Linked DNA regions of Homo sapiens: all the other regions are reported to be linked to region 5. The links are microRNA targets in miRTarBase. Many come from high-throughput screens and were not tested one by one. Region 5 holds a microRNA gene; each other region holds the end of a gene's coding sequence.

Region 1 (4,132 bases), not on the chromosome of region 5:
ATTTACCTAAACTGCGGTAACTAAACCGGTGCCTATTGAAGCCACCCTAAGGATGGGCTGTCTAGGCTGAAAACAGTGAGGTTAAAATATGTGGTGACCACTTCCCCCTCTGAGTCCTAGAACGTTCATTAGTTAGGCTTTTAGCCTTCTGAAGCTTTTCTGGGGTTCCTCCAAGGAAAGAGCCCAACCAGATCACCCTATGTCAGGGTTCTGCAACCTCAGCACTACTGACATTTCAGCCCAGGTATTTTCTGTTGTGGAGTTGCCCTGTGTACTGTAGGACGCTTACAGCAGCATCTCTGGTCAGTACCATCCCCCAATTGTGACAACCAAAAATGTCTCCAAATATTACTACCATAAATGGGACAAGGGAGAGTCACAAATGGGGACTGGGGACAGCAAAAGTCACCCCTGGTGGAGAACTCCTACCCAAGACAAAGGCCCAGTAGTCCCAGAAGTGTCACCCGCACTCAGCCAAAAAATGCGAGAGGGAAATAGTAACACAAGTATATTATTTAGATATAAAGAGACAAATACCAAAAGAATTGAAAGTGGTTGCCTCAGGAAAGGGAAATGTTGGCAGACCTGTTTTTGTTAACAAGCCTTGTTGGACCAGCTGGCTCTTCAATTTGCCCAACCTTGATTTTCAAAAAACTTTTAGTTAAGAAAAGGCAATGTCAGCTGAGCCGTGGTGGCTCACGCCTGTAATCCCAGCACTTTGGGAGGCTGAGGTGGGTGGATCACCTAAGGTCAGGAGTTTGAGACCAGCCCGGCCAACGTGGTGAAACTCTGTCTCTACTAAAAATACAAAAATTAGTCGGGCGTGGTGGCGCAAGCCTGTAATCCCAGCTACTCAGGAGGTTGAGGCAGGAAAATCGCTTGAACCCTGGGAGGCAGAGATTGCAGTGAGCCGACATCGCGCCATTGCACTCCAACTGGGTGACAAGAGCGAAACTCTGTCTCAAAAAAAGAAAAGGCAATATCTATGCCGAAAAAAAAGGGGGGGGCCAGGGTTCTCACCATGTGTCCCTGCCCCATGGCAGACAACTAAAGTAGAAATATAACCGCTCCTCTGGTCCCTTCCCTAGCTCTAGAGGCTCCTCTCCCCAGGTCTACCTGCTCTGCCTACAGAAACACATCCTTGGTGTGTTCAATCTTTTCACTTCCCTGGGCCACACTGGAAAAATTGTCTGTAGCTGGACAAGCTTGGTCTAAGTATTTTCTCAGCTGTTCTGTCCTGAGCCAAGTGAAAGTGCCAGGGAGGTTCCTCTTCTCCATGTAATCACTGGGCTCTGAAAGGATCTGGGCTTTTGTGAGGTCATTCAGCACGAAGGGAAGGCAGTGCCAGAACTCTGAGGGTCTCCTCCCAGACCCTCAGTTCAAGGCCTAATGCTCGGTCGCCCTTTACAACAGCCCCCTACCCTCCCTTCCCTCAAGTAACAAGTCATAAAGCTAGTTTCACCCAGCCCCAAAGGCTACAAGTAACGGGCACCCTCTGCTAACTGACAATACTGGGCAAATACAGATGTTCTCCACGCCAGTTTCATCATGTACAAAATCAGGATAAGATCTACCACAAAAGGCCATGAGGATTAAATGTAGTCTTCTGCAAGACCATTAAACTGACAGCAGGATGCAACGGCATGTACCCAGCCAGTGGCCTAACCTTGCAGGCACAGGTTAGACTAGGCACTGCCTTACCCTGTTCGATTCTTAGTGTTGGTTTCTAGTGAAACGCTCCAAATAAACTCAAAATTCAAAAGTATTGTTCCAAACCCTCAGGACAGGAACTATCAATCTAGTTTGCCAAGAAATGTACTTTTCATTAACTTCTGATCAGGGGCAAAAATATAATGGGTCAGAACTGAAGAATCCCATACTGAGAACTTTTAAACAAAACTTAGCTACACATTGCCTCCCACTCATTTTTGCTTTCCTTGTACTGATGTCCTTTGAACACTAGTCTGAACTGCAGAATCCACTTATACACAGACTTACTTTCACCTCTGCCATCCCTGAGACAGCAAGACCAACTCCTCCTTTCCTCCTCAGTCAACTCAAGATGACAAGGATGAAAACCTTTATGATCCATTTCCACTTAATGAATAGTAAATGTATCTTCCTTATGGTTTTATTTCCTTTTCTCTAGCTTACATTATCGTAGTACAGTATATAATACATACATATAACACGTAAAATATGTGTTCACAACTGTTTATGTTATTGCTAAAGCTTCTGGTCAACCGTAGGCTACTGGTAGTCAAGTTTTTGGAGTCAAAAGTTATACATGGTTTTTTGACTGCATGGGGGTTGGTGTCCAACCTCCACACTGTTCAAGGGTTTACCGTAATACCAAAGCTAAAAACAATCTACATAAAATAGTAAAATAAAGCTGTCCATTCAACAGTAAATCTTTGGCTGTGAAAAACCATGAGTAGGCCAGACGCAGTGGCTCATGGCTATAATCCCAGCACTTTGGGAGGCCAACACAGGCGGATCACTTGAGGTCAGGAGTTTGAGACCAGCCTGGCCAACATGCTGAAAGCTTGTCTCTACTAAAAATTAGCCAGATGTGGTGGTGGGCGCCTGTAGTCCCAGCTACTCAGGAGGCTGAGGCAGGAGAATTGCTTGAACCCAGGAGGTGGAGGTTGCAGTGAGCCGAGATCACACCACTGCACTCCAGCCTGGTGACACAGCGAGACTCCGTCTCAAAAAAAAAAACAAAAAGTATCAAAAGAAAAAACTGGAAAAACAAAACAAAAAAAACACCCGTGTGCTAACATGAAAGTGTACAGGCTGTGCTACTAAAAGGGAAAATGCCAAGTTGCCACCACAGTCCCTATGGAGTAATGTCTTGCATATTCTGGGCACACAAGAAGCATACAGGGAGGGGTTGGGAGCTTTAAGTTGGACAGTAGCTCTCACTTGTTAAGATATTCACATCACCTAAGAATGATATTAGGCTAACTGATCAGGAGCCCAGGTGATTCGAGTATGAAAGAAAACCATGAGAACAAATTTTCTAAAAACTGTAGGCTTTTTTATTCAGTTAAGAGGTAGACAAATGAACATGGAAGGCTGTCCCACTTAACTTGCCCAAAGTTCACATTCCACTTCATTCATCCATCCCACACTGCCAGAAATCTTAAAGAAATAACCAAGATTGCCAACAGGCTTTTTCTTTCTTACTTCTTCTTAGCAATAACAGTCAATAAACTGCTTGCAAAAAAGTTACTAATTTAAATTTTCACTGTGTTCAAAGAACCTCATCCCTCTAAGAAGCTCCCGAATATGCCAATAGATCCTGCCACTACTGACAGGAGGGCAGAGTACCAAGGACTCTACTTATATAAGAGACTACAAGGGAAGTTGTAGTTATATTTTTGTTGTTAAATCCCTGTGCATGTGAGGGCAGAAGCTGGTGAAACCAACAACGCAGAGCATGCTCTGTCAAACGGCTCTTCATGGTTTAAAAAAAAGAAAAAAAAATCACAAGTCATCTTCAGAGACAACATTAAAACATAATGGAATTGAAGCCTGATACAAAAAGTAGAGAAATATGTACAGGAATTCACAGCCCAGAAGGAAAGGGGACCTCAGCAGGAGCCAGTGGAACCCGGGCTATTTTACACAGCTAATTTTGAGACAATTCATATTTAGCACAAAAGCAGTTATAGCACAAGTAACACTTCCCTCCTCTGGCTCCCAAATAAAAAGACTCTTGTCAGTCTTCTGTTAACACTGTAATCATTCTTCAGGGGAGCAGGAATACCTAAGATGGTCCCAAACATTGACACAAATTTTAATCTCAAACAGCTTCACATTCTGAGGATGACATATCTGAAGATTGCCATGATGGCAGCACTGATAACTCCAGAAATGGGGACTGTGACAAACCAGGCCATAAAAATGTTACGAAAGAGACGCCAGTCAACAGCCTTCTTGGACCGGAGCCAGCCAACAGACACAACAGAGCCCACCTAGAAGAGAAGCAGACCAAGGAAACAGGTTATTGAAGTGCCAGTGGTATTCTGGCAAACAGACACCTGAGACTGTTTGGACAAGGAGCCCCAGACCCCTGGACAAGACAAAGTCCAAGAAAGCTGGTTTACAACAGGTTAAGCTGGGAAAA
Region 2 (4,132 bases), not on the chromosome of region 5:
CCCAGAATCTGTGATCTCCACAGGGCCAGGGTTGCTACTTGCACCCAGAATCTAGTGATTTTAGTCAGATCCATGGAACAGAGCAGCTTCGTAATACATTGTCAAGTTACCTGATTACAAACTCTCATAGATGTTGGAACTACCTTTTTACTCCCCATACTTTGTAAGTAATGCTTCCAGATTAACCTGCAAATCTTGTGGAGCCAAAGCCTCTCACAGTGCTGATTTACCTCCCCCAAAATGCCCCCAAACCCCCATGCAAGTTTACAGCCAGTAGCTTGGTCTTATTCTCTTGGAGCCCTAAAATTAAGCCTTTCATTCCCCTTTGCTAAAGCATCTCACTCCCAGGGCAGCCCCAGCACCCTGGCATTGCGGGAGGTGCTCTGCTGCACAGCTGTTCCATCAGGCCCTATTGGCCTCTGTTAGACATTGACTCAGGGAGCCGGAGCGCCAAGTGGAGGTTGTACCTTTCAGCCCTTTGGGGTGTTAAAAGTGTCAAGGGCTGGGTTTGCCTCTGATGAGTACAATCAGTTCCAGAAGACTGGGTAAGTCTCTTGCTAGCAGGTGGACATTCTGGTATTTTAGACTGACTGAACGAAACCCAGAGGCTGGTTCCAGAGCTCTGTCCCTGAGAACACATCCCTGTGGAAAATACTTGAGTTTGTAATTTTTTTTCCCCCTTCTGGGAGTGGAGGTCTCAGGCTCAATCCGGAACCATGTACGTACAGTTTTGCTTATTATTTGATGTGACATGAACTCAAAATCCTGCATTTTTAGATTCCTTTTAGTTCTAATTGAGGCCTCACTAGATGCTCTTCAGTTCTGTGTATTTTGAGGCTGGGTGGAGAAGTATATGATTCTGCTGTTGATTCTTTCAGTCTTCCCCCCTTCTCCTTTTATCAATCATTCCAGAGTTATTTTCTATTAGTCAAACTTTTTTGTAGAACCTTCTTTCCCTTACCCTGGCAAATTGCTTCTTTACTTGCTGGTTTCCTTACGTTTGGGGCACATGTTGTAAGAAACTGATTGGAAGGGGAAATGTGCAGCTCTCCACTGGAAAGGAACTCTCCACCCCTCCCATCCTGATAAAACAAACAAGGTTTACATTTACAACTAAAAGGATTCAGATGCAATTTTCAACTATTCTGAAACCAGCAGGACACACCTGACTTTAATAGTTTTAGCTGAAATTGTAGATGTTTTGCTTCAGTTTAACTTATGAGAAAAGATTATCTGACGGATTTTGTGTTGACTTCCCCTTTAGTGGTTTATTTTGTCTTTTTCTGCCCATCTGTCTACTAATAAAATGTGAAATAAAATACCTGTATTGCTACTTCCCCATGAAATGACCCTCTTCTTTTTTTACCTTGTGTTAAAGAAAACTAAAAGGTGGTCTCATTATCACTGTTAAGTTTGCAGATTACGCTGGGGCTCAGCTGAAAAATTAGACAAAAACCAAAACTGGGGAATCTGCCTTTCTAACTAACTCACCTCCCTGGTGTATCCCCAGTCCCTTCAAGCTCCTTATAGACGTAGCCATTTGTTAAACTTGATTCTGAAAACGGGAGCTGATACAAGTAGGTCAGTGAAGGATTGAGGGGTGCTCTGCTGCTTTCCTTAGGCAAACATTTTCACTGTCATTTGTTTTCCTAACTTACTGCTGCTAATAGCAGGGATCAGGCAGATCACCCTATTTAATAAAAGTCCTAATTTTACCTGTAGACACTTACCTTTTTTCTAGGTAAGGTCCCAAGCTGTGGGTTAATAGGAGTATCGGTCCCATCTGATGACAGGACCATCGCTCTCAATTGTAGAGGCCAAAAGCAGAAAAAGTAGATTGTGACCCCAGGCTGGTTCTGACACAATCAATCAATCAATCACCTGACTAGCCATTTTATTTCCTCCTTTAACCTGATCTGAAGCAGCGATTTAGGAGTGAAAAGAGAGGCTGTAGCACCTTGGGCAACACTTCTAGGCCCTGAGCTTCCTGCCTGCTGGATTGGAGCACAGTTGTGGTTGGCCAACAGGAGATCTGCCTCCTTCCTATGGCCCTTGGTTACTCCCTGGCTTCTGACCTGACACAAGGTGAATGGTTGGTTGGGCTTTTCTGGAGCAGATATGTAGCCCCGGATCCACCAGCCTACCTCATGACACCCTCACTAGTCACGTGTTCTACCATAGCTTTTGACTGCCAATCAAGATTATGTTCAGTTGATGACAAGCAAAAGACAGGTATACCTGTTCATACTCTCCCTTAAGGCCTAGAACCCTGCTCTCAGTTCTTGGCTTTGCTTCAGATTGTAAAAGTCCACTGAGATTTGGAAAAGAAATTACCCTGCCCTGGTATCCAGTGGACAGGGCTCTGTGGGACACTGCCCTATCCCTAAGTCTCTTAAGGAGCTATAAGAAAAGCCAGGTTAACTTTGATCAACATGGCCTGGGCCCTGTAAGGAGGTTTAGCTGTCCTTACAGCCATTGTGATTTGGGCCAAGAGGGTCCAGTAAAAAGGAAAACCATTTCAAGCCTTTATAGCCTGTGTCAGAAGACTATGACCATGTGGGATCTCCTTTAGCCCTGTGAAGTCCAGGGCTTCTGCCCTGAGCTGCCCTTCAGTCACACCACACAGAGACCATGCATGCTCTCAGAACTTTATTAGGTGGGGATTGGGCAAGAGAAAACCCCTGAAACAGTTGCCCACGTGGTTCAAGACAACTAGAATGGAGATGTGTTGCTTGGAGATACCTTAGATTTTTAAAGGGGAGCTGACTGGCTGAATAACTCAGATTATTTTTTTTTTTTTCATGGTCAGCCAGTCTCTAGTAAGTCTCTAGGGACATGACCAGACCAGAAGCCCCTGTTCTATATGAAGACAAACAGGTGGCCATACTTGGGTGGAGGGATACCGCTGCTATTCCCAGATGAAGATTTGGTGGAAGGAGACCATGACAGATGACAAACGGAACAGTTTCTCAAAAACAGAGGTATGAAGTAATTACACAGGAAAGAAAACAATTTCCAAAGGAGTGAGACAAGTCGTGATTCTTCATTGGTACCTGACCCCTATACCCAAACAGCCTTGAACCAGCCCTTCCAGAGACTGCCCCTAGTGGCCCACTGGGCAGTGCAGGCTGTGAAGAAGACCTGAAGGCAGATGGGGTGGGGGTGCTTATTTTGCTACAGTGGAGAAGGGGCTTGAATGGGGAGGGCAGACCTGGCTAACATCTGCCGCCATCCCCCAACTCCCCCCCAGACTTCTATCACATTTACAAATACATACATAAATACATTACATACAGTAGCCAGTCTGGGAGGCAGACTCCCCACAGAGGCATGGCTGACACATGTCGGGAATTCTAGGAAAGGGCACTGGGCTCCCAAATACGTGCTCGTGTGTTCTCTCCTGCCCAGGATAAGCCTTGCCCCAGCCCACCCCTCTCTTCTGGGTTTAGTTTGTCCAGTATGGAGAGTTGCCGTAGGCAGGTTTGGAGGCTTGAGACTTGGGCTGCAGGGAGCTGGGCTGGCTGCGCTGACCCGAGCCACTCTGAGGAAGAGGAGAAGGGAAGGCTGTCAAGGCTGGAGCAGAACCCCTGGCCCAGAGTAGGGTGGCTGCCTCCATCACTGTACTCACCTGTGCATCCTGCGGAAGGTGGTGGTGCAGCAGCTGTGAGTGGGGCTGCTGGTGGGCTGGCAAGATGTGTAGGAATGGTGGGGGTGCATAGCCAGGGGCCGCTCCCGAGGCCAGGGGCCCAGTGGAGCCCAAGACCGAGGGCAGGCTGAAAGGTGGAGGCGTCCCTGCATGAAATCCCTGCTTGTCAAAAGTCTACAGGGCAAAGAAGACAATGGTGAAGGTCAGGTTGGGCTGTAACCTCTCAAAAACCTATACACCCAACCCACCTTTGTCCCTCACCTGTGTCTTATTGTAGACAGAACCAGTCATATCAGGTAGACCAGTGGTGCTTGAAGACACTGATACTCCTAGGAGGAAAAGCAGTTGTTCCCCACAGCAGTTGTTCCCAGCTCCAGGCTCCCCACCTCCAGGATCACTCAGGGGTTGCCCTGCCTGAGAGGGGATCAGGCAGGAGCCCACCACTCCAGGCCTTATCCTGGAAAGGAGAGGTAAACACTACCTTTG
Region 3 (4,132 bases), not on the chromosome of region 5:
CACATGTTATGAGCCCAGAGCTTTCACTGGCTTCAGCGATTGGGCATCATCAATGTGATCATGATTGTAGCCGTGGACCTTTGATAATTGTGAGTTAGACTAGGAATAAGGTATCATTGGGGGTTCCTGACATGTGCTTAATCACAAATGACTTCTGCAGGCCATCAAGAATAAGTATGCAAGCAGCAAACTCCTGAAGATCAGCATGATCCCTCAGCTGAACTCAAAAGCCGTCAAAGACCTTGCCTCCCCACTGATAGGAAGGTCCTAGGCTGCCGTGGCCCCTGGGGATGTGTGCTTCATTGTGCCCTTTTTCTTATTGGTTTAGAACTCTTGATTTTGTACATAGTCCTCTGGTCTATCTCATGAAACCTCTTCTCAGACCAGTTTTCTAAACATATATTGAGGAAAAATAAAGCGATTGGTTTTTCTTAAGGTATCCCATGTGTATTTATTTGTGTATTCTGTACTTAAGAAATCAGTGAAAGCTTGCTTTGACTAATTTCTTTTTGAGCTGTTATGAATAGCATGTAAATTACTGCCATTATGGCTTGGGCAAGACCTTTTTACCATTTTCTCAAATGGAAAAAACTAGAACTTGGCCTCAGTGAACACTAAACCTATTCCTAAGCTTCTTGAATACAAATAAGTTTATTATGAAAATTTTAAATGGGAGGATAACCATGACACTTTCCTTTCTAGAAGCTAGTCAGCTGCTCTCTAATTCCTGCATAGGAACGCCTGGCCCAGAGCAACCCTTGTAATGGGTCCCTCTCTCAAATGCATTGTTGAGACCAGAGAGAGCCATCCCATGGGTCACAGCTGGAGAAAATGGGCCCGTGGCATCCTGTTCAAGGTGAAGCTTGGCATGCATTTTTTCAGGTACATTATGGGGTAAATGGCTTTGCATTTTTTTGTTTGGTTGGTTTTTAATGGGCATTGAACTTTTTTTTTTTTTAATTGAAGTTCTGGGGTACATGTGCAGAACATGCAGGTTTGTTACATAAGTATACATGTGCCATGGTGGTTTGCTGCACCCATCACCCTGTCATCTACATTAGGTATTTCTCCTAATGCTATCTCTCCCTTAGTCCCCCACCCCGTGACAGGCCCCTGGCAGGGGTTTTCCCCTCCATGTGTCCATGTATTCTCATTGTTCAACTCCCATTTATGAGTGAGAACATGAAGCGTTTGGTTTTCTGTTCTTGTGTTAGTTTGCTGAGAATGATGGTTTCCAGCTTCATCCGTGTTCCTGCAGAGGACATGAATTCATCCTTTTTTATGGTTGCATAGTATTCCATGGTGTATATGTGCCACATTTTCTTTATCCAGTCTGTCACTGATGGGCATTTGGGCTGGTTCCAAGTCCTTGCTATTGTGAACAGTGTCGCAATAAACATATGTGTGCATGTGTCTTTATAGTAGAATGATTTATAATTCTTTGGGTATATACCCAGTAATGGGATTGCTGGCTCAAATGGTATTTCTAGTTCTAGATCCTTAAGGAATCACCACACTGTCTTCCACAATGGTTGAACTAATTTACACTCGCACCAACAGTGTAAAAGTATTCCTATTTCTCCACATCCTCTCCAGCATCTGTTGTTCCCTGACATTTTAATGATCGCCATTCTAACTGGCATGAGATGGTATCTCATTGTGGTTTGGATTTGCATTTCTCTAATGACCAGTGATGATGAGCATTTTTTCATATGTTTGTTGACTGCATAAATGTCTTCTTTGGAGAAGTATCTGTTCATATCCTTTGTCTACTTTTTGATGTTTTTTTTTTTTTCTTGTAAATTTGTTTAAGTTCTTTGTGGCCTCTGGATAGTAGCCCTGTGTCAGATGGATAGATGGCAAAAATTTTCTCCCATTCTGTAGGCTGCCTGTTCACTCTGATGGTAGTTTCTTTTGCTGTGCAGAAACCCTTTAGTTTAATTCAATCCCATTTGTCAATTGTGGCTTTGTTGCCATTGCTTTTGGTGATTTAGCTATGAAGTCTTTGCCCATGTCTATGTCCTGAATGGTATTGCCTAGGTTTTCTTCTAGGGTTTTAATGGTTTTAGGTCTTACATTTAAGTCTTTAATCCATCTTGAGTTAATTTTTGTAAAAGGTATACCAGTATAAGGGATCCCGTTTCAGCTTTCTAAATATGGCTAGCCAGTTTTCCCAACACCATTTATTAAATAGGGATTCCTTTCCCCATTGCTTGTTGTTGTCAGGTTTGTCAAAGTTCAGATGGTTGTAGATGTGTGCTGATATTTCTGAGGCCTCTGTTCTGTTCCATTGGACTATATATCTGTTTTGGTACCAGTACCATGCCGTTTTGGTTACTGTAGCCTTGTAGTATAGTTTGAAGTCAGGTAGCATGTTGCCTCCAGCTTTGTTCTTTTTGCTTAGGATTGTCTTGGCTATGCGGCCTCTTTTTTGGTTCCATATGAAATTTAAAGTAGTTTTTTCCAATTGTGTGAAGAAAGTCAGTGGTAGCTTGATGCAGATAGCATTGAATCTATAAATTACTTTGGGTAGTATGGCCATTTTCATGCTATCGATTCTTCCTATCCATGAGCATGGAATGTTTTTCCATTTGTTTTTGTCCTCTGTTATTTCCTTGAGCAGTGGTTTGTAGTTCTCTTTGAAGAGGTCCTTCACATCCCTTTTAAGTTGGATTGCTAGGTATTTTGTTCTCTTTGTAGGCATTGTGAATGTGAGTTCACTCATGATTTGGCTGTGTCTGTTGTTGGTGTATAGGAATGCTAGTGATTTTTGCACATTGAGTTTGTATCCTGAGACTTTGCTGAAGTTGCTTATCAGCTTAGGGAGATTTTGGGCTGAGATACTGGGGTTTTCTAAATATAGAATCACGTCATCTGCAAACAGAGACAATTTGACTTCCTCTTTTCCTAATTGAATACCCTTTATTTCCTTCTCATGTCTGATTGGCCTGGCCAGAAGTTCCAATACTGTGTTGAATAAGAATGGTGAGAGAAGGCATCCTTGTCTTGTGCCAGTTTTCAAAGGGAATGCTTCCAGTTTCTGCTCATTCAGTATGATATTGGCTGTGGGTTTGTCATAAATAGCTCTTATTATTTTGAGATACGTTCCATCAATACCTAGTTTATTGAGAGTTTTTAGCATGAAGCAGTGTTGAATTTTGTCAAAGGCCTTTTCTGCATCAATTGAGATAATCGTGGTTTTTGTCACTGGTTCTGCTTATGTGATGGATTACGTTTATTGATTTGCGTATGTTGAACCAGCCTCGTATCCCAGGGATGAAGCCGACTTGATCACAGTGGATAAGCTTTTTGATGTGCTGCTGGATTCAGTTTGCCAGTATTGTATTGACGATTTTTGTGTCGATGTTCATCAGGGATTTTGGCCTAAAATTTTCTTTTTTTGTTGTGTCTCTGCCAGGTTTTGGCATTAGGATGATGCTGGCCTCATAAAATGAGTGAGGGAGGATTCCCTCTTTTTCTATTGTTTGGAATAGTTTCAGAAGGAATGGTACCAGCTCCTCTTTTTACCTCTGGTAGAATTTGGCTGCTAATCAGTCGGGTCCTGGACTTTTATGGTTGGTAGGCTATTAATTACTGCCTCAATTTCAGAACTTGTTATTGGTCTATTCAGGGATTCGACTTCTTCCTGGTTTAGTCTTGGGAGCGTGTGTGTGTCCAGGAATTTATCCATTTCTTCTAGATTTTCTAGTTTATTTGCGTAGAGGTGTTCATAGTATTCTCTGATGGTAGTTTACATTACTGTGGGATTGGTGGTGATATCCCCTTTATCATTTTTTATTGTGTCTATTTGATTCTTCTCTCTTTTCTTCTTTATTAGTCTGGCTAGCGGTCTTTGAAATTTTGTTGATCTTTTCAAAAAACCAGCTCCTGGATTCACTGATTTTTTTTGAAGGGTTTTTTTGTGTCTCTGTCTCCTTCAGTTCTGCTCCGATCTTAGTTATTTCTTGCCTTCTGCTAGCTTTTGAATATGCTTGCTGTTGCTTCTCTGGTTCTTTTAATTGTGATGTTAGAGTGTCGATTTTGGATCATTCCTGCTTTCACTTGTGGGCATTTAGTGCTATAAATTTCCCTCTACACACTGCTTTAAATGTGTCCCAGAGATTCTGGTGCC
Region 4 (4,132 bases), not on the chromosome of region 5:
AGGACTTGGGCTCTATTAATCTCTCTGAAATCATCAGTCTTCTCACACTTCCCATCCCCCAGCTACTCCCTGCAGGCTCTTTATTTCACCCACCAACCCACCAGAAACCACAGGTTGCCCCTTAGGGAAAGCCACACACCAGGAGGATGGGAAGGCAAGGTCCAGGCCCCCATATCGCTGAAGATGCTATTGAAATCTCGTACTAGGTCATCAAAGCCGAAGTTATCGTGGAAACGTATCCCTCCTCCTGGGCTGAAGCTGAAGCCGAAGCCAAATTCCTCAGGGGGGTGCTGAGGACTATGGAACCTTGGGTTCCCACGGCCCCATGAGCCCCCTTCTTCTTCTTCTTCCTCATCATCATCTTCATCTCGAGTCATCCCTCCAAAAAAGGGATCTCTGTGGCTGAGAGTGGAGGCAGATTGGCCACCAATATTTCAGCACTATTTAAGCCATTAAATCAACTCATGGGTGGCAAAGTGGGACAAGAGCAAGGGGTCTGGGAAGCTAGGGAGAGGGTCGGAGGACTGGCTGCCACATCAAAACATTAATACAATGGCTGACAGTTCTTTTTTTTTTTTTTTTTTTTTAATCAAAGTCAGACCTCAGCTCGCAGCTCCCTTCATACACCTTCCCCCAGTTTTTCTTCAGTGTGCCCCAGTCCCTCCTCTCTCTCCCAAGGTCCTGCTCACTTGCTCACTGTCTTATTCCCCAGACCCTCACGGTCTTCCCCGCCCGGGTCCCTGTTGCATCACCCCAGGTTGGAGAAAGGCTTAGTTTGCTGTTTCTCCTCTTAATGACCGCCTTGGTTACTGTGGCGGGGTGAGTGTTCAATGTTGCGACTTCTGTCCTCTCTGCAGGAGTTGAAGGAGTGGGACAGAGGATGTTTTTCCAAAAATAAGACGTAGGGGTCAAGCTCCCCTCAGACGACCCCCACCCTTGTCCGAGCCGGACCTACTCTCACCTCCGAGGTCCAGGAAAGCCGAAAAAGCCCCGGAAGAGATCAAAGAGGCTCATTCCCGTACTGGGACGCGAACCTTTGAACCCCTCCAGTGGTCCATTCGCAGACGGGGGAAACCTGCGCAGCCCTGTGAGAAATTGAGCGAGGCGTCAGCCCACGCTACCGGAAAGCAAGCCCGCGATCCTGACACTGTCGTAAACGACGGTAAGCCGGACGTGAAATGGAGGCGGGACCGAAGGTCTTCCTCAAATTTGAAAGGCTTTATCTTTACCCCACCTTTCAGAGACCAGTTTCCGTGACGGGAGTGGGCGTGACGCACTTTCAGTTTCCTATGACCGCCTTCCTCCTAAATCTGTTCTTCTTTCTGCAGACCAACTCAGTACGAAAAGCGATTTCGAGGGTTTGACTCTGGATGGCACCCGGATAAAGCCGCCAGAGGGCAGCCCAGCCGCACAAATGGACCGGCTTGAGGGCGTCCCTCAACCACCCCACCCGCGGGGCTGGCCAGCCTCACAGCAGAAGCCACCTCGCTCCTTACTCGGGCGTTCTTTTTGACTGACCTGGGCGATGTCTGCTGTTAGAGGGATGAACAAAATGCTTTTCCAAGCTCCTTCTAGTATTGAATTTCCCAGAGAAGAGATCAAGACATAAGAGACGCATGGACTTAACTTCCTCCACCTCTCTAGCTACTAGGGAGTTTGTTATAACTATATAGAATTCTTTTTTCTAAGCAGGCTCTGCAACCAGCAAGACAAAGGATTTTTAAGAAAGCAAGGGAAGGGAAGCTAGTTGAGTCCTGAGAAGGAACAAATTGGGGGTTATAAAGAAATATCCCTTTGGTATCTTTTTTTTTTTTTTTTTTTTTTTTTTTTTGAGACAGAGTTTTCTCTCATGTTTCCCAGGCTGGAGTGCAGTGGCACCATGTCGGCTCACTGCAACCTTCGCCTCCCAGGTTCTCTCCTGTCTCAGCCTCCCGAGTAGCTGGGATTACAGTCATGCGCCTCCACGCCCGGCTACTTTTGTATTTTTTGTAGAAACGGGGTTTCACCATGTTGACCAGGCTGGTCTCGAACTCCTGACCTAAGGTGATCCGCCCAACCCAGCCTCCCAAAGCGCCTGTCCTCATTCCTTTTTAAAAGTGTTTTGTTCAAAACCTCTCCGAGACCTGTCTCTCCCTGTACCCCATCCCCAAGCCAGACCTTGCTCTAGATTCTTTTTCAAAGAATTGGGTATAGCTATGTCACAGAGAAGCATCCAAGAAGCCACTACTACAGTAGTCCATTCCTAGGGGGAATGGGCCCCAAGGTTTTGTTTTTTTATTTCGTTTTTGGGGTACAGGTGGTGTTTGGTTACATGGATGAGTTCTTTAGTGATTTCTGCGACTTTAGCGCACCCATCACCCGAGCAGTGTACACTGTACCCAATATGTAGTCTTTCATCCCTCACCCCACTCCAAGATTTAGTTCTGCCAGACGATACATGTTGCCTTCACTTCTTTTTAGTTTATTTGCCTGGACCCATCTAAGTCATACTTAAAACTCTATAAAGCATTTTTTTTCTTTGAAATGGTCTCAGCTCCTTCTTGATCCTCTCCATTTTCCACCCAATCTCCTCTATCCCTCTCCCTTTACTGCCTGAAATCGGCTGTAGATGTAGCAGTTTCTGGAGGAAATGAAGATTTGTGGTGGTTCTTTCCAGTCACCAGGTTGTGAAAGTCTTAGGGGTGAGGGGAAGGAAATCCCCTCAAGGACAAGATACTACTACCACATTAAGGTCAGGAGTTCTTAAAGGGCGAAGATTTCATTTTATTCCACTGCCTTCAGGGGCCTGCTAGAGGAGGCCCAGTTGGTACAGTAATACTTATTCACCAAGCTGGTCATCGACGAAATTGAGGATGTCCTAGACGGAGCAAGAATAGGCAGAGGCTGAAGGTAGAGGTTTTCTTTTTATATATACAAGACACATTAATCCATTAAATTTGAGGACACAGTACAAAAAAAAAAAAAAAACAAAAAAAAAACCACTTCAACTAATTCATCTGACAATGCTGTTCATATTCATGACGCCATTTTTTTGTTTGTTGTTGTTGTTGTTTTCCTAATAATAAAGAAGGAGACTTAGGGCTGTTGGGCTGATATATGTTTGGGGGTCCCACCTCCCCGCCTCATCCGTACACCACCAGGGTGAACAGGAGGAAGCAAAGGAAGTGCAGGGCCCATAGCAAAGTTTCATAATCTTGAATGCAAGAGGGGAGAAGGAATGGAAGGGGGAAAAAAAAGGAGAAAATACAAATCCTATAATACATACAACAGGGTGGGGATGGTATAGGAATGGGACAGACATGAAGCTGAGGCATGGGGTGGGCCGCTGGGGGTGGGGGGCAGCGGAAACCCCCCACATTCCTTTCTCTTTGATGCTGTTTCCATAGTTTCCAGGCTGAGAAGCCCTCTCAGAAGATGGGACCGGGAGAAGAGGGTCAGGGCCTCAGTTGGCCCCCCAGCTGTAGCTGTTGTAGGCAGACTTGTTGGTCTGGGGCTTCTGCGGGATGGAGCTGGTCTGGCTACGTTGCCCGCTGCCCGTCTGCAGGGGAATGGGAGGATCATGAGGAGGAAAAAGGTGTCTAGTTAGTGGTACAAATTTGTAACATCTTCAGGTGGAGATGTGCAAACTGTCTTGCTCTCCCATTCCCCTCACTACTATTAGAACCATAGAAAATTTGGTCTGCATAGCTGCTAAAGCCCCTTTCTTACAAGCAGGAAGGCATTTTTGACTTTTAAATAGGGAAAAGATGAAGAGGGCAAGATACCTTTAGAGACAAGGTAGTGAGTGAGTTCTACTCATTTTCAATTCTACATTCTCACACTACCCCCTCTCTCCCCTGCTCTTGGAGATGGGTGATCACAAGGCAATTTCATTTCCATTGATCCCCATTAATGCCTCAATTTGGAAAGCTGTCTTTGAGGAAGGAAGCCCTTATTCTAGCTCCAGCCACCTATAATGGAGCTCTCAAGAGGCCACTTGCATCGCCCCACAGATCCCCACCCCTACCACACATCACATCTGTGAGCCCATTTCAGGCAGGTATGAGAGGCAGTCTGAGGCCTCAGGCTCCAGATGCTGCCCCAAGAATCTTTTCCATTCTGGTAACCGAATGTTTTCCACAGCTGGGGAAGG
Region 5 (4,000 bases):
CTTCTCACTCAACAGTCACACTGCATAGTCTCTACCGCCAAGGACAGCATCAAGACAAGGAGAAAAACCTTATCTAAGTCCATGCTCTTAGTCGCCCACTTCCATTTCTGTCGGTGAACTGCCAGTGTGGGGAATCTTACCGAGATGACCCCATTCCGTCATTTGAGTAAGATCAGCCTAGGTGTCAGATCAGAGAAAATGTTTGTACTCTGAACCCCATCACCACATGTCATTTTTTCTAGGGCTCACATGTATAAAATCACTAATACAATTTTGGTTTAGAAGGAAGTTACCTACTTTTTTCTGAAACTTCTGGGACCTCAGACAGAGATCTTTTAAATGTCTGAGTAAATGTTGATAGAATTATACATTACAGTGTATCACTTGATATAAAAGGGGGAAAAACTGATAGAAATACAAAGAAATAAGACTTGAGAGTGAAAGACTTTAGTATACCCTACTCAGCAGTTAAGGAATCAGGTAGATTAAAAATAAGGGTAGTGAAGTGTTCAGTTAAAATAACAAGGTTGATCTAACAAATATCTTTATATAGAACTTTTTACCTAATACACACATTGTTTCAAACTTGATATAGGATGAAAAATAAGTGAACCTAGCCTGTGACTGAAAAGACTAGAGTGGACAAAATAAAAAATAAGCCCCATGAAGGGAAAAAATACATAGATGAAACCAAGAAATTCTTGCTAGAATGATCATGATCGTGCCCATCCCTAAGGGGTTTTTATTATCCTTTCCTTCCATATTTATTTCCCCCTCAGCCCCAAACAATTCTTGAACCTGAGTATGTATAGAGAAATTGGTCATATATTTGCACAGTGAAATGATCACCTTCCTTTGGTCACATGGCCAAAGCATTCTCCATTAGATCACTGAACTCCTAGATGGTCTGGGTGGAGGATGGTGACTATTACAGTTGACCTCTATCTTAGGTGCTTGCAAAGTCCCACATTGGTCTATCCCTTCTTTTTGCAGTGTACTGCATCTAAGTCAAATGACTCCACTGAACAGAATCTCTCAGGTAACTCTCCTTCCCTTTCTCCCTTCTTACTAATCAATTGGTTGCTTCTTTATCCTGATAGTTCCGAGTAGCTGGCCCACATAGGCTGAAGATGGACACTGGTGCTCTGTGGGATGAGGTAGTAGATTGTATAGTTTTAGGGTCATACCCCATCTTGGAGATAACTATACAGTCTACTGTCTTTCCCACGGTGGTACACTTCTTCTCCGACTGGCTCTGTTCAGGTTCTTGTTCTGGTTATTATCTACTTTGTTCTGGCATGGGTAATGAGGTCATGTGTCTTGTTCATTTCCTGACTGCAACTCTGTCCTCTGAAACAGCATGTTCATGTACATCTTTGAAGTGGCTGGTCCTTTGATGACCACCATGGTGTGGCACTTCATGAGAATAACTGATGACAGTGGTTCTCAAATGCCAGTCCTCTGTGGAAACGAACAAAATCAAGGAGCTTTAATGCCTTTTTCATAAAGCTGAATTTATTCCATTTAAAAGGCTGTTTTTGTATTTAGAGATCATATTCCTAATTCTGTGGTACCAAAATATTTTTATTAAATGATGTTGATTGGATGTTTTTTCTTACATGGCTAAACTAAAAGTTGGCAACCCCTACATTAGTCTCTACTTTTTGTTCTTTTTTTAATTAAATTTTATTGGTCCATGGAATCTAAAAGTCTAGGAACATTGTCTTGGATAGTGTGCTGTTCATGAAGGTAGCTCTCTGGGCTTAGTGGTATGACTGCCGTATGTTTCCTATTCCCTCTGATCTTCTTAACAATGGTCAGTAGCCATTTTGTGATTCTATCAGTTGGTTCATGTGATATCATATGTCTCCCCCACCCATATTTCCTCAGAACATTCTTCTGCCTCCCTACACCTGTCTCCTTTCGCACTTGAGTTGGAAAATGATTGTACCAAAGCCTGCACAATATTTTTTAAAGCAGTGAAGTAGGGTAGATGCCTTGGTACCCTTAATCTAGCAAAAGATCTTTAAAAGAGTCTGTCACCATGTAAAATGGCCTTTTGCCTGCTGCCCTTATTAGAGGATTCTGCTCATGCCAGGGTGAGGTAGTAAGTTGTATTGTTGTGGGGTAGGGATATTAGGCCCCAATTAGAAGATAACTATACAACTTACTACTTTCCCTGGTGTGTGGCATATTCACACTTAGTCTTAGCAGTGTTGCCTCCATCAGACAAAGTTGTAGATGTTCCTTGGATAATTTGGACTGGAAGAAAAGAGACATGGAAGGGGACAGATGGTGTTTAGGGTGAGGCAGATGTCATTATAAAGTGACTTGTCTTTCATTAATTGGAGCATATAATTATTTTACCTTTGGGCATGAACTCATTTTGCTATTCTTCAACTGTGTAATGATTGCATTTTATTAGTAATAGAACAGGAATGTGTGCAAGGGAATGGAAAGCATACTTTAAGAATTTTGGGCCAGGCGCAGTGGTTCATGCCTGTAATCCCAGCATTTTTGGGAGGCCGAGGCGGGTGGATCACCTGAGGTCAGGAGTTCGAGACCAACCTGGCCAACACGGCGAAACCCCGCCTCTACTCAAAATACAAAAATTAGCCAGGCTTGGTGACACTCGCCTGTGGTCCCAGCTACTCAGGAGGCTGAGGCAGGAGAATTGCTTGAACCCAGGAAGTGGAGGCTTCAGTGAGCTGAGAACACGCCACTGCACTCCAGCCTGGGCAACAGAGCAAGACTCTGTCTCAGGAAAAAAAAAAAAAAAAAAAAGATTTTGAAGGGCTGGACGCAGTGGCTCACGCCTGTAATCCCAGCACTTTGGGAGGCCGAGGTGGGTGGATTGCTAGAGCTTAGGAGTTTGAGACCAGCCTGGGCAACATGGCAAGACCCTGTCTCTACTAAATATACAAAAAATTAGTCAGGTATGGTGGCACATGCCTATAGTCTCAGCTACTTGGGAGGCTGAGGTGGGAAGATCACCTGAGCCCGGGAGGTGAAGGCTGCAGTGAGCCATGATTGTGCCACTACACTCCAGCCTGGGCAACAGTGAGACCCTGTCTCCAAAAAAAACAAATAGAGTTTTGAACGAAATTCTGACCATTTCTTGCTCCAAATAGATGAAGTGGGAGGATCAATAGGATTTTGGTAGTTAGATTTTCTGTGTACCTATAGGTCAGAGACATTTAGCCTCACCCTATATGGCCTGAAATCTTCCCCCTTCCACCTGCAGGGCACAGAAAGGATTTTATTCTTAGAATCCACAGAGTCAGAGCTCCAGTTCTTGCATTCTTGGGACAGAGATAGCACTGTGCCTTAACCTTCATCCTTAGTATACCAGACCAGAGATGTTCCTTGGAGTATTTTTGTTGTGGGGATGATCACTGGCTGGGTGGGATACTTATCAGGCCACATTTGCTGATTGGGGTGGCTCCCCTCATCATTGGCTGGTTGCCCCTTAACCACTATTATTGTTCTTTCCGAGAAAGATGGGACGCCTATGCCTGACAGCTACCCAACAACCCCATCTTCAACTGATGCAGCTACATCTGAGTCCAAGGAGACCCTTGGCACTCTGCAATCCTCACAACAGCAACCAACACTCCCAACCCCACCAGCTTTGGGAGAGGTTCCTCAGGAGCTGCAGTCTCCAGCTGGAGAAGGGGGCAGCTCTACACAGCTATTGATGCCTGTAGAGCCAGAGGAATTGGGTCCCACAAGGCCAAGTGGGGAAGCAGAAACAACTCAGATGGAGTTATCCCCAGCTCCCACTATAAGTGAGTAGAATTTCAACATTTGGGGAGGATGAAACAAGAGGGAAGAAAGGATGTCTTTGTAGCTTCTCTTTGCTCTTTTGCTTGAGAGAAATAGTAGGAGTTCAACTTCTCAAATAATAAGATCTCGTCTTGCGCATTCACTTTCTTAAGTGAAGTTGAGGTCCTGAACTGGTGATAGTTGAATGTCTAATGATATTGGTGATGATACCAAC
Region 6 (4,000 bases), not on the chromosome of region 5:
TCTATTTATGATTAAAACAGCAAAAACAGATCCTGGTTTGAGTGCAGGTACATTCTTTGGGGGAGGGCACCTCAGGAACATGCATTTATACCCTTCCTGTGACTCCGTGTAGAGGGAAGACTAACTCACAGTCCATAAGAATCCAAAAGTGAGCGGCGACTTCACTCAGCAACCCATCCTGCCTCCAAGCTGACTTGGCTATAGAGTATCTTGCGTCCTTTTGTTCTCTTCTGACTACCTGTCACTCATGTTTTAAATAATCTTCTTTTGAAATAATAAGCCTTAGCTGGCTTTGCAGGCAACTAGGCACTTCCAGCAGGACATGAGAATGTAAGATGGCCACTACCGGAACTTACAGGTGCCAAAAGAAGAAAGGGTATAAACGGAGACCACCTATCACTCATCAGAACCTAGGATCATCACATTCCTTTAAATGGAAAAGCCCACCCTACAACTTTCTTTTTAATGTTCTAAAAAGTGACACCTAGGTTTCCTCAACAGAAAGCTGTGCTTCAATCCCAAATCCCCTTGAGACCAACATGCCTTAAAGGGGGTTTGGGTTTAAAGACCAATGTATCTTTTTTTTTTTTTTTTTTTTTTTTTTTTTTTTTTTTTTTGAGACAGAGTTTCGCTCTCGTTGCCCAGGCTAGAATGCAATGGCGTGATCTCGGCTCACTGCAACCTCTGCCTACTAGGTTCAAGTGATTCTCCTTCCTCAGCCTTCCGAGTAGCTGGGATTACAGGTGCCTGCCACCATGTCCAGCTAATTTTTCTATCTTTAGTAGACATGGGGTTTCAGCATGTTAGTCAGGCTGGTCTTGAACTCCTGATCTCAGGTGATCCACCCATCTCAGCCTCCCAAAGTGCTGGGATTACAGGCGTGAGCCACTGCGCCCAGCCCCAATATGTCTTAAAGGGGGTTTGGGATTAAAGTACAGTTTTCCGCTGAGGAAACCTAAGGTCTTAAAGGGGTTTTGGGATCAAGTGTCCTGTTGAGGAAAACTAGGTGTCACCATGCATTAGTCTTCCCCGCATTACACAAAAGGCAGGTGTGTTCCCAGAAAAATTAAAGATGGTCTTACAAGAAGTACAAATGTGCCAACACCAGGACTTTGGGGACCCTGGTTCTGGCCCTGCCACTTGTTACTCTATTACTTTATTCCACATGTCATCTGTTACTTTGGAAAAACAAACCTGGGAGTAACACCTTACTGTCTGGTTCTCAAGTGGCTAAGTGGCTCTGAGCAAGTTTTAAATCCGGCATCGCAAGTACCCTTTGGAGAGGGATTTAGGGCCTGAGAAAGGCAGACTCCACCGAGTGTCTGTCCATCTGTCCGGACAGCACCATGTGGCTCAGCATGCAGGCCAGGCCGCGTGCCTGGGTTTGACTCCCATCGCCGGCCCCTGCTGTTAGTTCCGGACAGTTCCTTGGTGCCTGTGTGCTGGTTTTCTCGTCTGTAAGATGGGGTCGGACAGGCAGCTGCACATGGTAGGCGCTGTGTGTCGGCTATGAAACCACCAGCCCACCGCGTGCCCTGTTCACATGCCTTACAAATTGAGGGCTGATCTCTAAAATAGCATGATTTGTACACGTTTCTGTGACCAGCGAGCCCTTTCACACATCACTGTGACTGGTCCTCATGGTCACCCTGTGAGGGGGGCAGCATTTTTGCCATCTTACAGACGGGGAGCCCAGCTTGCTCTGAGCCATCCAGCAGTGCTGGCCAAGCCTCCGAGCTTGGCCAAATGCTGGCCCCAGAGGAGACAACCTTCTCCCGCCCCTCACCTCTGAGAACAGAGGGCGGGCCGCTGTGCTCCTCACAACCTGGACTGCCTCATCTTCCCACGGACGAGCTGTCAGGGCTGTGTTTCTCCCAAGATCCCCAGAACAACCAGGGGAAGAGTTCCTGAAGAAATGGGTGTATTTTAGCCACATGGACTCAAACTTGGAAGCAGCATTTGGCATCCCCGGAGAGCACTCAAATGGGGCTGGACCATGCTCGGGGCTCCCTGAGGCTCTGTCCCCACACTTTGGGGCATGACATGACCTGGCTCTGTGCTGCCCTAAGACATGGGTTTAGGAACATGAAATCGTGCAGAGCTGAGCTGTCAGGCCTGAGCAGACACTGCTGGGGGAGAGAGAAAGTTCACATCCCCCCACCAAGCACGGTCTCAGATTAGGTTATTACAAAGGGCGAGGGGGAGGAGGGCATCCCAGGAGTCTAACATCCAACCCGACCTATGCAGAATGACGGGTGACCACGCCCTGACCCAGCCACACACTTGAACCCTGGGACTTCAGTGAGGTAGGTGGTATCAGCCCCATTTCACAGGTGGGCAAACTGAGGCAGAATGAAATGCAATAGCTCGCTTTTAATAACAACATACAAAAGTCTGGAGAAAGCCCCAAAGTAGTCCCCTGTTCCCAGAGCCCAAAGAATAAACAGATGGGAGAACAAGACCCTCCTCTTCCTTTTCCCCCACAGAGAAGATCCCTAAACACATCACCGGAACCCCTCAAATATTCCTGGGAACTTCAAACAAAAAAACATAGCAACAAAGAGACCCAGCTTCCAGTTTATTCCCAGTTGGGTAGGGGACAGGCCTGCTCTCGGGGAGGGTACCGTGCATCCTTGCAGATGGAAACGCCTTCATGCTGGACCAGGCCGAGGGCAGGCCTGGGGCTGGGCAGCTGCTCACACGAACCAATGGGGGTGCCCATGTGAGCCTCTGAGCAACTCCTCTGCCTCAGTGAGCTGGTCTGAGAGATGGGACCAACACACGCCGTCAAAGGAAGTGAGTTCTAGGAAACCAGGGAAGATGAAAAGACACCCCCGCCCCCAGAAGACGGGGTCCCACCTAGAACCTTCCTGGGAGGATGCCAGCCCCACCCCACATCAGACACCCTTTGGCAGATATCCTGTTCTGCCTGGCTACCGAGGCCTCCCGACTACCCTCAGAATCCAAATTCTGCAGGTTCCTCCGTGCGAGGCCCAGCGTGGGATGTCCCAGGTTGGAGGTGTGCGTGTTGGCGGTGTTCTTTGGCTGGAAGCAAAAGGCCGTTCTGGCGGGATCGGGGCCGTCTGCTCAGCTGGAGGCCTTTCTGGAACTGGGCGTGGGTGAGGTATTCCCAGCCCAGGGCAAAGCCATCAAACTTCTCGTGTTCCCATCTCCTATTAGAACAAAGTGGTAAACTGGGGAGGATGAGCTGGGACTGACTCGGGTGCTGAAGTTCATCCGCACGGCATTCCAGAATCTTCCACCGGCTTTCCTCAAGAACATGTGGACAGTCCAATGCACTGAGTGCCCTGGCTGGGTGGTTCCGCCTGCTGCTGGGGGGACGTGAACATAGACCCGCCGCTCTGGCCCCGCTCTGGGCATCAGCTGCTCCTTCCGCTCTCTCTCATGGCCGCTCGGCATCTCTAGTCCTCTTTGGGTGCAGAGGGCTCTCCAGAGATGGGTGGGGGGCGATGGGCGGGGGGCACAGGGCGGAGCAGCGCCAGCAGGGGAGGGAAGAGGCACTTCAGTTTGGGCTGGTGTTCGTGGAGTCGGCCCCGGCCCCGGGAGTCGAGTGGCCTCGCCTGGCTGCGGCTCCAGCACTGGCGTGCCATCGCAGACCCCGGTGGCGGTGGACAGGTAGGCACTTGGCAGCACTCCGAGGGCTGGGCCCGGCCGGGGCTCTGCGCAGGCTCCGCACGCGGCTAGGTCATCAGGATGGGCTTCTGCCGAACTTCCAGGATGTCTAGGGCCGGCAGGAGGGAAGCAGGTGAAACAGTAACCCTCAACAGCGGTGAGTGCTATGGTCACGGCAGTGCCACTTCTGAAGGAAGCCCGCCTCAGCCACTCATGCATCTCCTCTCCAGGCCTCACAGACTGCAGAGGAGACGTGTCTCCACCATCCTCACCCTGCAGACTGGGAAATGGGCTCGCAGCAACGGCACACCCTGCAGGGCCTCAGGTGCAAGCTGGTGTGGGGGCCAGAGCCACTGCCTGTCACAGC

Evidence for each region. The annotated mature microRNA hsa-let-7f-5p reads UGAGGUAGUAGAUUGUAUAGUU and lies in region 5 at 1,154-1,175, shown strand. An mRNA with a match to its seed (bases 2 to 7 or 8) in the 3' UTR can be bound and repressed. Matches are read on the target gene's strand: a 7mer-m8 pairs with bases 2 to 8, a 7mer-A1 pairs with bases 2 to 7 and ends in A, and an 8mer does both.
Region 1: miRTarBase lists SLC20A1 as a target of hsa-let-7f-5p. Seed matches in the 3' UTR shown: 7mer-m8 at 3,054-3,060.
Region 2: miRTarBase lists UBAP2 as a target of hsa-let-7f-5p. The part of its 3' UTR that is shown has no 7-base or 8-base seed match.
Region 3: miRTarBase lists CCNB2 as a target of hsa-let-7f-5p. The part of its 3' UTR that is shown has no 7-base or 8-base seed match.
Region 4: the mRNA of UBAP2L is a reported target of hsa-let-7f-5p. The part of its 3' UTR that is shown has no 7-base or 8-base seed match.
Region 6: the mRNA of KIAA0930 is a reported target of hsa-let-7f-5p. Seed matches in the 3' UTR shown: 7mer-A1 at 3,121-3,127 and 8mer at 2,303-2,310.

What each region holds. Positions count from the first base shown.
Region 1 is chr2:112,662,712-112,666,843 of GRCh38, reverse strand. It overlaps SLC20A1 (solute carrier family 20 member 1), which reads right to left. Exons shown (of 11, transcript NM_005415.5): 11 at 3,019-3,980. The coding sequence ends at 3,819. Among named protein-coding and RNA genes, the nearest start is that of SLC20A1, 19 kb to the right of the region's middle.
Region 2 is chr9:33,919,059-33,923,190 of GRCh38, forward strand. It overlaps UBAP2 (ubiquitin associated protein 2), which reads right to left. Exons shown (of 29, transcript NM_001370062.2): 26 at 4,128-4,132; 27 at 3,908-3,975; 28 at 3,629-3,820; 29 at 2,635-3,541. The coding sequence ends at 3,446. It overlaps UBE2R2 (ubiquitin conjugating enzyme E2 R2), which reads left to right. Exons shown (of 5, transcript NM_017811.4): 5 at 1-1,341. Among named protein-coding and RNA genes, the nearest start is that of SNORD121B, 13 kb to the right of the region's middle.
Region 3 is chr15:59,124,607-59,128,738 of GRCh38, forward strand. CCNB2 (cyclin B2) reads left to right here. Exons shown (of 9, transcript NM_004701.4): 9 at 161-439. The coding sequence ends at 271. Among named protein-coding and RNA genes, the nearest start is that of CCNB2, 22 kb to the left of the region's middle.
Region 4 is chr1:154,269,606-154,273,737 of GRCh38, reverse strand. It overlaps UBAP2L (ubiquitin associated protein 2 like), which reads right to left. Exons shown (of 27, transcript NM_014847.4): 27 at 2,891-3,538. The coding sequence ends at 3,443. It overlaps HAX1 (HCLS1 associated protein X-1), which reads right to left and starts at 1,109. Exons shown (of 7, transcript NM_006118.4): 1 at 962-1,109; 2 at 140-402. The coding sequence starts at 1,014. RefSeq lists an enhancer at 1,046-1,215 and a silencer at 1,353-1,493.
Region 5 is chrX:53,554,421-53,558,420 of GRCh38, reverse strand. It overlaps MIRLET7F2 (microRNA let-7f-2), which reads left to right and starts at 1,147; the gene lies at 1,147-1,229. It overlaps HUWE1 (HECT, UBA and WWE domain containing E3 ubiquitin protein ligase 1), which reads left to right. Exons shown (of 84, transcript NM_031407.7): 60 at 994-1,039; 61 at 3,501-3,788. It overlaps MIR98 (microRNA 98), which reads left to right and starts at 2,080; the gene lies at 2,080-2,198.
Region 6 is chr22:45,193,475-45,197,474 of GRCh38, forward strand. It overlaps KIAA0930, which reads right to left. Exons shown (of 10, transcript NM_001009880.2): 10 at 1-3,742. The coding sequence ends at 3,702. Among named protein-coding and RNA genes, the nearest start is that of MIR1249, 5.5 kb to the right of the region's middle.